2 separate regions of the Homo sapiens genome follow, and region 1 is linked to region 2. A link means that fine-mapping ties the variant in region 2 to the expression of a gene that starts in the linked region. Tissue or cell type: whole blood. Region 2 holds a variant in brackets; the other region holds the start of a gene. All regions are shown on one strand. Distances are between the middles of the regions.

Region 1 (5,000 bases), 37 kb after region 2:
CCAGAAATTACCTAGGTAGGTTTTTAGGTTGGGTGATATTTTTCGAAGGAATGGTAAAGAGCATGGAGATGAGATAAACGAAAACCTACAAACTCTCCCAGTTATACAACTCACATAACCTGCAATGATGTCTGGAATTCTATGGGGCCCAAAGTAACAACAACAATGATGATGATGATAAGATTAAGATCTTACTACATACCAGGCACCCTTCTGCATACATTAAATATATTCAACAACCCTATTAATATCCCCATTTTGCAGGTGAGAAAAACAAGGCATAGAAAAGCTAAGTAACTTGCCCAAGATCACACATCTTGCTCCGTGAACACAGAGGAGGAAATGTAACTGGAAATGCCAAGCCCCCGTGCGGTCTGCCTGCCAGTGATGGAAACCTGACATGGGAGGGCAGCCACCACAGGAACCTGGGTTATGTTTCCAGTGTTGCCATTTGGGCAACAGTCTTCACATTCTCTTACTGAAAACATTAATCAATGCTCAGGTTCCAAGTAATCAAACATTAACCGAGACTCCTAACAGCCAGTTCCTTCTCAGACTAGCCCCACGGAGGTTTCCTAGATCTCGGGTAGCGATGGAACACTGGTTGATTCTCCTGGAACTGCCTTCAACTATTTAAGAAAAATCAGAGGGGAAAGCAGCTTTGAAGGAAATGTGCAAAGTAAAGCTATATGTGGGAGGCAGCAGTTCTAGTAAACGCACAGAACTCACAGCTGTGATTTTTCTTTTAAAGACATATAAATAAAAAGGAGTCCTCACTGGTGTAAATTACTCCTGCCTTTTTTTTTTCTCCACTTTTTTCAACTGCTCACATTTTGGAACTGTGTGAGCAAGTTTTTACATATTGATCAATCTTTTAAAGTTTATACATCATTTTCTTAAAGAAGGAAACAAAGATCAAGCTGAAAAGAACATTCAGGCAAAAGAGAAAAATTACATGATGAATGAATGCAGTCTTTGTGGGCGAGAATTCTGGGATGGGAGTGTGGGGTGTAGGGACAGCTTTCAAACACTTACTCAAATGTGCTTATCTTCATCATTTCCTGCCTCTAATTTTTACCGAATAACCACCTTGAGATCCCAGGAATTCAATAGGAAACTCAATTTAACAACAAGTTCCAGGGTATTCCACATAATCTCTCTTTAAGGCAAAGTCCCAAAAGAGAGATGGGACTATAATGACCACAAGTTAGGTGACTTTTCATATTCACATTCCTTCCACGTTCTTCGACAATCCTGGTCCAGTTACTTACTGTGGACCCTGTGTGCTTTACTTTCCTCTGCTATATAATGAGAATAATATTAACACCTTCTTTATCCGGTTGGTGTGAAAACTGCATGAATAAATGTAAAGCACTTGGACTGTGTCTGACACAGAGTAAAATGCTCGAATAGCATCAGCTGTTATTACTACTACTACTTACTACTATTATTTGCAAAAACATTACAAGGGATAATTATATCCAGGAAGCTTCCCTTGTATTGGTAATGTTTTATTGCTTTTTCTAAAATTTAAATCAGAGCAACAGTCAATACATGCACACAAAAAAGGCAATTCTTCAAAAATGTGGGGGAAAAGCCTCCCATACCCATGTTACCTGCTGGTGAGTTTCAGGTAAGGGTGTAGCTGGGAGCATCCGGTTCCAAGACTGCCTTGTATTTCTCTTACAGGATGCCTCCCCTTCTGCTGCGGTTTTTAATCAGCGTTTCTAGGGCAGGCTTGCAGGCGGGGCCGCGAACCCCCTGTAGTTGTACACGGAGCTGGGTGAGGCTGCGGCTCTGGGCATTTCTGGGGAGGAGTTCCATGGCTTTCCACAGACTCTAACCACCCTGCAGCGAGCCGCATGCTATACGGGTTAAACTCGGGGCATATCGAACGAACAATTCACTTCACGGAAGACTAGCAATAACCAGGACACCTGCGCTATTGATCAGCTATCTCAACACCAGAGAGACCCACCAGCACAAGGGGCAAGAATTGGCCAGGAGGCGCGCGGCGCTGCGCCCTCACCGCGTCCAGACAGACCCTTGAACTTCACCGCCAAAAAACGCACCGCTCCGCAGACCCGACCCGGGAGAGGGGTTTAACTTCCCCTCACCTTTCCCATCCCTCCTTCATTTCCAAGGACATACTCAAAGGAAACTGGCAACACTCGGTCTAGGGTTTCGCTCCTGCCCTCGGCGGACACCGAAACCACTTCTCCCAGGGAAGTTAATTAAAGGAACCATTAATCCGCCCAAAAATCCAAAACCTACCCCCAAAGCTCAAGAGCTCTGAAAAGAGATCGAGGGCGCCTCTGCCGATCTTGAACATCTCTGCTCGTCGCTGGGGCTTAGAGGTGGGCAGGGGGTGCCAAAGGGGCGCAGGCAAGACCCGGCCAGAGGGTTAGACGCCGGCCCCCGTTCCGAGGCGGCCCAGTCTACACGCCAGCGACGCCGGCTGAGCCGGGCTTGGAGGCAGCCAGGTAAGCAGGTAGGTGTAGGCATGTGTCTGAGCAGACACACAGCTGCGGCGGATTAAAGTTCAAGCCCGTTCACACTCCGCTTCCCCTTCCCAGGTGTTCTCACGCACGGCCCAGGCAGCCACTTTCCCGGGGAAGCCTCGGCGCTCGACCGGACAGTCCCCTCTTTGTCATTCTTAATGACTCCCCTTGCCTCCCAGGCGCCAACCCATTGAGACTACTCGCTTCTCTCCACTCTCCCAGGCGGGCGCAGAAACCCCCGGAAAGGGGAACTCGGCGGGGACCGGGGGAAGCAGGGTGTCGCGCGGCGCAGGGGGCGCCGCAGCCGGCGTACGTACCCAGAGCGAACAGGGCGAGCTGTCCAGCCGAGGGGACCATTTTACGGGCGGGCGGGCAGCAGGCTCTCCAGCCTCCTGCCCTACCTGCGGTGCCCGAGTGGCGGAGCGGCGCCGCGGTGCGGGGGAAAAAGACGCAGACTAGGCAGGGCCTGCCCCCGGCGCGGGAGGGCGGAGGGAGGACCGAGCGCCTCTCTGCTGGCACTCGCCCCGCAGCGCTGCCCGCCGGGCGGAAATAGGAAGGCGGCTACCGTCACCTCCTCGCCACTCGGCGACCGGGGCACAGCTGACCCCCCCCTCCCGCCCCGATGGGGGTGCCCCCCTGAGGGCACAGAGGGTGGGGGTTTGGGGTAAGGGGCGGGGACGCTGAGCGCACCGAGCAGGGCGCGGGCTGCTGGGCGGGGCGACCTGGGATCCCAGAGCCTGGCGGCGCGAGCCGGGCACCCGGGCCGACGAAAAGGCAGGAAGCGCCTGACTTCAGACACCACCCCCGACTGCCAGCGCCGTGCGGCAGCGGACTCCAGCGTGCGGGGTCGGCGCCGGCCGCGTAGCCGGATTGTCCTGGGCCGCAGTGGCGGCTTCCAGGCTCTAGGCGGCGGAGCGGAGCCGCCCGGGCACCCGTTACCTACACCGAGGGGCCGCTCCTGGGGCATCTCTGGGGCGGGGAAGGCTGGAGGCTGGGGACGCAGCCAGGAAAGGGACCTGTGAGTTTCGCCGGCCGCTTGCCAAGACTTGGCTCAAGGAAAGTGGTCCCCTGAATCAATGAAGAATTTGTTAAACCAGGTTTCCCACCTGTGCCACAGTTCCCATCAATTCTGGCAACGCCTGCCGCCTTACCTCCCAGGCAGGCCACATCGTTAAGATCAGTCTTCGTACTTCTGGCCTGGGACTGATAAAAAATGGGTCTCTGTGACGAATCTGGTTATATGGCACCACCAGCTGAGGCCAAAAGCCTGCTAGCCTGCCACCAAGTGTACCCCGAAAGAGGGGTGTGTGGGCCCGAGTCACCTGGGTGGTCCTTTCAGGATTTGTGGCTCTGAGGTGGCCCCTGGTGCTGGAATTTGGGGAGGTGGAGGGGATAGAGGGAAGACATTCTGGGCGAAGAGTGGAAGATCCATAGGTTCCTCGGTGACCCTCATGGGGACAGTACACCCGGGAGATTCATGTTCTCCAGGTACCCGGAGCTCACGGACTGACCCTCTTCTCCTGCCTCCTCTGGCCTACGTGCTCCGGGTAGATCCACTTTCCTTGAAGGTGGGGGTGGGGGCTGTTGGGCCTGGGGAATCTTTTGCTGTTTACTTGGGGAGGCTCAGGCTCTCACGGTTGACCTCTGCCCAGTTTGTTTCATGTAAGTAGAGCAACCTAGTTTCAAGAAGGAAGCACCAGGCCATTGGTCTCAACATTTGGGCAGGAAGCACCAGTGTAAATCATTCCTTTCAATAGATTTGTCGGAGCATACTTTGTTCTTTTAGGGTAAATCTTTTCCTTGGTCCACCCCATGCATGTACAAGGCACACATGCACTTCCTTTAGTAGGTTGTCCCTGACTCCCACTTCCTTCAGGTTGATCTTGACCTGCTCTGGTGGTTTCCCTGTCTCCTCCCTAAACTAGTCTGCTTTGGCTACAGAAGGGGAGGAATCAGGGGTTCCCCCACCCTTCTCCTGTTCCCCAGGACTAGAGAAGGACCTGACTCCTTGCTTCCTACTGGAACACGCAAATCAAGCTCACTGTGGCTGAGGGATGGCTGCCCAGCCGGCTGAGGGTCATGTTCAGCAGTTTCTGCTTATCTGTCCCCTACCCCCAAAGTCAGAGGTGGAGGGAAGTAGCAGAATCAAGTCAATTTCCTTCATGATTGGAAAATATTTTAAATCAAGAGGTAACTTGCAGGCCAGGCATGGTGGCTCACACCTGTAATACCATCACTTTGGGAGGCTGAGGTGGGTGGATTGCTTGAGCTCAGGAGTTCGAGACCAGCCTGGGCAACATGGTAAAACCCCCCATTTCTACTAAACATACAAAAAATTAGCCAGACATGGTGGCGTGCGTCTGTAGTCCCAGCTACTTGGGAGGCTGAGGCACGAGAATCACTTGAACCTGGGAGGCAGAGGTTGCAGTGAGCCAAGATTGTGCCACTGCACTCCAGCCTGGATGACAGAACAAGACTCTGTCTCAAAAAAAAAAAAAA
Region 2 (5,000 bases):
AAGAAACTAGAGCCACCGTAAATATCCAATGGGAAATGTTTCATTAAATCACCCATGTTCACTTTAATGAGACAGCATGACATTTTAAGAGAAGAGATTTCAAGACTTTCCAGCAACATGGAACAATGCACAGCCCCAACATTTGAGCTTAAAAAGCAGGAATCCACATTGTTTCCTCACCAGGACTACTCGTATAAAAATATTAACACACATGGAGAAAGGGCAAAAGCAACATGCAAATCAAACAGAGGTTGCTCCCCTGCAGTGCTGTGGCCACTGATGGTTTGCCTCCTACATGTCCCAAGCTCTCCACTATTTTGATTTAGAATCTTTAAAATAATAATAAAAAAAAATACCGATTTTTTTTTTTTTTTTACTATAAGTATTAAAACGTAAACCAGAAAATAACTAAACAAAGGTCACCGATGAGGGTTCAGAAATCTGGGTTCTACTTCAGGTGGACTATTACGAGAGTGGGGAAAACAGCTGGCCCCAAGCTCTGGGGTCCTGCAGGCCCTGTTTTGGCACACTTGCCCACAGGAATTGTCTGAACAGCTGAAGAGAGACACGTAGGGGAGGCCCCTGAGGGGGCCAGGAACAGCCCCCCCTTGGGCCTGCAGTTAAGACCTTCCAGTGAGCGCCTCCTCGCCCCTGAGGAGGGGGCAGAGAGGACTCCGGGACAGGCGTGTGCTCGGTGGGCAGGAGGCCAGGGAGGGAGCTCTTGAGGAGCCACACAGCAGCAGGCCCGCTCCCTTCCCACACACGATCCACACACCCACGGCAGCTGCACTCACCACTCAGCGGGGACGTGCTGTTCTCCAAGGCCTGGCACGCAGCCAACACAATACCTGTTGGGTGGAGGAGAAGAGGGAAAAGGTCAGAGTCTGCTTGGCAAATGATGTCCTCAGACGCTTAGAGGGCAGGCCCTTTGACAGGCAAAGGTTCGGTAGTTTCACAGAGTGGCCGGTAGACAGGCTCAGCTACATAATTTGTGGATATCAGTGCAAAATGAGCACATGGGACCCCTTGTTGAAAAAGTAAGAAGAAAATGCCCATGAAAAGCACTGAAATCCAGAGCCTTCCACTTCTTCCCAGTCTCTCTCTCCATCTGTCAGGGTGGTTTTGGCCTTTGTTTTTTCTTAACACCTTATAAATATATATTTTTTTATGGTGGGAAAATATACGTAACATAAAATTTACCATTTCAACCATTTTAATTGTACATTTCAGTGACATTAAGTACCTTCACCCTGTTGTTCATGTCATCATGTTTGTTTGCTATTTATGTCATTGCTGTCCTTTGGGTATGAGGATACCCACAGGTTGAGTGCAGCCTCTCACAGGTATACCCCAGGGACAGAGTGTGTAAGGGAGCAAAGGACCCACTCCCTCTGGGGTTTCCTTCCAGCTGGCAGCCGGGCCAATGTGCTGTGACCCAGCTGGGGGTTGAGGGGTCTAGTCAGGTATCTCTTATTCCCAGGAAGTGGCTGTCCCAACCCAAGATGGATGGGTGACCCCTTAAGGATATTGCCTCCTCCCTGCCAGGATGTACTAGGTACCTGGATCAGGGGGAGTCAAGCAGCTCACCCCTCTCTAGTTGCCCACTGAAGATGCCATGGAGCTGCCAGTCCAGAATGGGGACAGCTGCCACCATGCCGTACCCTGAGATGCCATGTACTTAACCCCAGGCCCTGCCAGGGATAGATCATGGCAGGAGCAAGAAAACCTAGGGGAGGCAGGGAGATATTAATAAGCAGGACCACGGGAACAAAGCCTCTAAGCCCCCAGTGCATACTGTATTGTCCCACTGGACTTCACCTACAAGACGCAAATTTAAAGATAAAACTACAAGATTTTTAAGACTGCAACTGCAGAGTGTTAAACCTCAAGCTCAGGGCCCTTGTGAGCATGGGGTCCTGTGTGACCTATACAGGTTGCATGCCCATAAAACCAGCCCTGCCAACAGATGACCTTTATGTGCCTTCAGATTACAGTACTCGAGGTTTCTGGAAATGGTAGCAACCTTCCAATGAAGAAGGAACCTCTTCTGAGTTATGCAATCAGCATGAGCCACATTAGAATGACTTCCCAAAACTGAAACGCAAAAAGATGCCA[C/G]AGTTGCTGTGCCGAGGGGCTGGGCCTCTGACAGGTTAGCTCAGAAAGCAAATGAATCAAGTTAGCACAGGAAACAAGCAAAGTTCTGTCTGTTACAGGATCGATGCAGCCCCCTACTCTGCAGGCTGTGAGGGTTCCTTGCCCCTTTTCACTTAGGGTGTAGACACAGAAGTCCTGACTCTCAAAGAACAAAACACACTTGGAATAGATAAAGCAATCATGCTCCCGATGTTCCTTCCAACCTCTGAAATGAGAAACATAAGAACTTCAGACTGCTTTTACTGGAGGTCTGGCATGGACCTCCGAAAGACTTTTACAGAATCCTAAGCCAGATGTTTGGGCTGGAGTTGGAGGCAGGGCAGGGGGACAGGGAGAGAAAATCAGTAAAATCATGCATGTCTTCCCTGTGCAATTCTTTCTTGCTGTCCAATTGATGCTAATTTTGGAAGCAAGGCTCCCAGGGCCCCTCTGTCACCCACACACCAGTGTTAAAACAAGGCATCCCCATCCAAGCCGGGAAAAGTCAGCAGTTGCCCCCTTGAAGCTGGGGAACAGTCATGTTCTGACTTCGCTGGCACTGCCACAAACCATCCTTGGCTAAAGTCAGCCAGTGACTCATAATAGTGTTCAAGGATGACACCGGGGATGCTTTGCATACTCTGAGGGGAAGCGTGACTTGCCTGTCACAAACTGCCCCGAACTAAAGAATTATCTTCATGCCCTGTTCCTGCTCCCTATCCTGTCAGTCAGGGTGAACCCAGTCAGCATGGTTCCTGGGCTCCATGTTGGCCTCTGTTTAAGCAAAACCCAGACAAGAAAGCAAACACTGTACAGCTGAATCCAGGACAAGACACTGATGAGCACCACTGCTCCAGGAAGATGAGGGTGTGCAATGGGGGCCTGCTCCCCAGCCTTGGGGCAAATTACTTCACCTTCTGTTCCTCACCTGTGAGCTCGCAGCTGCTAAACTCACAGAGGTGTTTTGGGAATGAATTAAAGTTTGCAAAACCACGATGTTCCACAGATGAAAGACACTGGCTTTTTATTCATAATTTGAGCAACACAAGAAGAATAGGTCCTTTCTATACCCTCACGGAAAACAACTTCTTGGTGCCCTGGGCTTCACTCTGCAATCTTGATCCATGCCTAGCATCAGCTGAGGCCCTGTGATGAGCGGCAAGGCCTCTGCTTTGTCTTCATCATGTGGTGAACCTAAGAGGACCCTGGAGCAGGAGGACAGGGCTCAGGTCTCTCACTTTGCAGGTGGATGTGTACCACTTTTTGGGCATGACCTAGTCCCAGGCCCAGTGCTAATGTTCTGCATGTGTTCTCTTACTTAGTCCTTATAACAACTCATGACATAGGTGCCTCCCAACCTTCTGGTCCAGCTGGTAGAAATGCCCAGTCATAGAGATGAAGAAACTGAGGCTTAGAGAGGTTAAGAAATTTGCCCAAGCTCCTGCAGCCACATTCAAACTCAAGTGTCTCCAACTCCCATGCACAAGACAGTGTCTAATTACCAGACCACACCACAGTCCTTCTCACCATGGCCAGTTGTGACACAGGTGTGTATTCAGCAGTCACAAACCCCAAGTTAGTCCAAACAACAGACTCTGCAGGCCCAGCGGCTGAGCCTTGATCCGTCTCTCCCTGAGAGTCATGCATTGCCTCTTGGGGATTCTCCCACTGCCTCCAGTCTCCCTGCCATGAACAAGGTCTAATGAGGGGCAAAGGTATGAGCACCCAGGCTCACCAGCTGCCCAGCCCTCTGGCCACACGACTGTGCTTAGAAAGCCAGGCTGTGTGAGGACCTTCCAGAAACATGTGGCCTTGGCAGGCTCCAAGGGTCACTCCAAACAAAGGAAGGATGGGGAGAGGACAGCCACAGGCACCGCAGCCACATGCAGTGGCTCAGGGAGACACACAGTGCACAGGCCTGGTGGCCCACAGCCACAGGCTCCTCCTGCCTAAGTTTCAAAGCAGGTCCTTGCCCGCCGCAGGCCCTCGGGACAGGAAGGCTTCTAGGAATCCCTTCTAGGCCACTCCTGCTGGCATCCTATTTCTGTTTAAATAGCTCCAAAGAGGGAAATCCCAAGACTGTGGACTTCAAAAAGAAAAAAGAAAAGAAGGGGGTGGTATCAAGGGGAAAACCACATGCAACGGAAGAAAACCCTTATGAAAGGCTGATCCTGTGTCCCTCAAAATAGAGTGGGAACCTGGTCTGCCCTTAGGAAGGACAAGTGTTGCCATGCTTATCGTTCAGCTGTTTGGTACTCAGGTAAATGTTCCCAACAGAAACAAGGTAAAAAGGAGGCTCACCCATTTAGCTCATGAGTCCCCAGAAGTGGAGCCATCCCAAAACCTATGTGCTGATGTGTCAATGGGAAATGCTCTTAAGAGAGGCTGGACACCCCTCTCCCCTGGGCCCCAGAGCAGGATACCCCCACTCCAACTCCTCAATCAGGCATGGGACTAGCAATTCTGCACAGATACCCAGGCTGTGCCTTCAGCGTCAGACACCCTTCATCATCAACCACCCATTGGCCTGGTGACCACCTCTTCTGTGGACACTCAGCTATAGTGCCTGGAGCTGGGAGGAGCATCCTCTGGCCCCTGACCACCTCAGCAGAGTGGACCATGTCCTGCTCTGGCCTCTGCTGGGGCTGGGGTTTGCTTTCAGGCCCCTATGTACTCCACTGCATGGATCAGTTGCTCCCTCTAGAATATCAAGAGCTCTACCTTTCACCTGTTTGGGATCCTCTAAGCCAGACTTCCTGCATGAAGGGATGAAGGGTAAGTTTTTGTTTTCAGGGGGATGTGGGAGGATGAAGAGGCTGCAGCAGGTCCTTTTGGATGAAGGATGTTCTGGATTCAGACGAGGTGGT

Evidence for each region. PIP is the estimated chance that this variant, and not a neighbour inherited with it, causes the effect.
Region 1: TGFA starts here. The variant in region 2 is fine-mapped to the expression of TGFA in whole blood (TOPMed, PIP above 0.99).

What each region holds. Positions count from the first base shown.
Region 1 is chr2:70,550,910-70,555,909 of GRCh38, forward strand. TGFA (transforming growth factor alpha) reads right to left here and starts at 2,917. Exons shown (of 6, transcript NM_003236.4): 1 at 2,819-2,917. The coding sequence starts at 2,858. LOC124907824 (a long non-coding RNA gene) reads left to right here and starts at 1,799. Exons shown (of 2, transcript XR_007086906.1): 1 at 1,799-2,483. RefSeq lists a silencer at 2,978-3,047.
Region 2 is chr2:70,514,065-70,519,064 of GRCh38, forward strand. TGFA (transforming growth factor alpha) reads right to left here. Exons shown (of 6, transcript NM_003236.4): 2 at 795-848. Among named protein-coding and RNA genes, the nearest start is that of TGFA-IT1, 35 kb to the left of the region's middle. RefSeq lists an enhancer at 210-712. The variant C/G (reference allele first, on the strand shown) is at 2,116.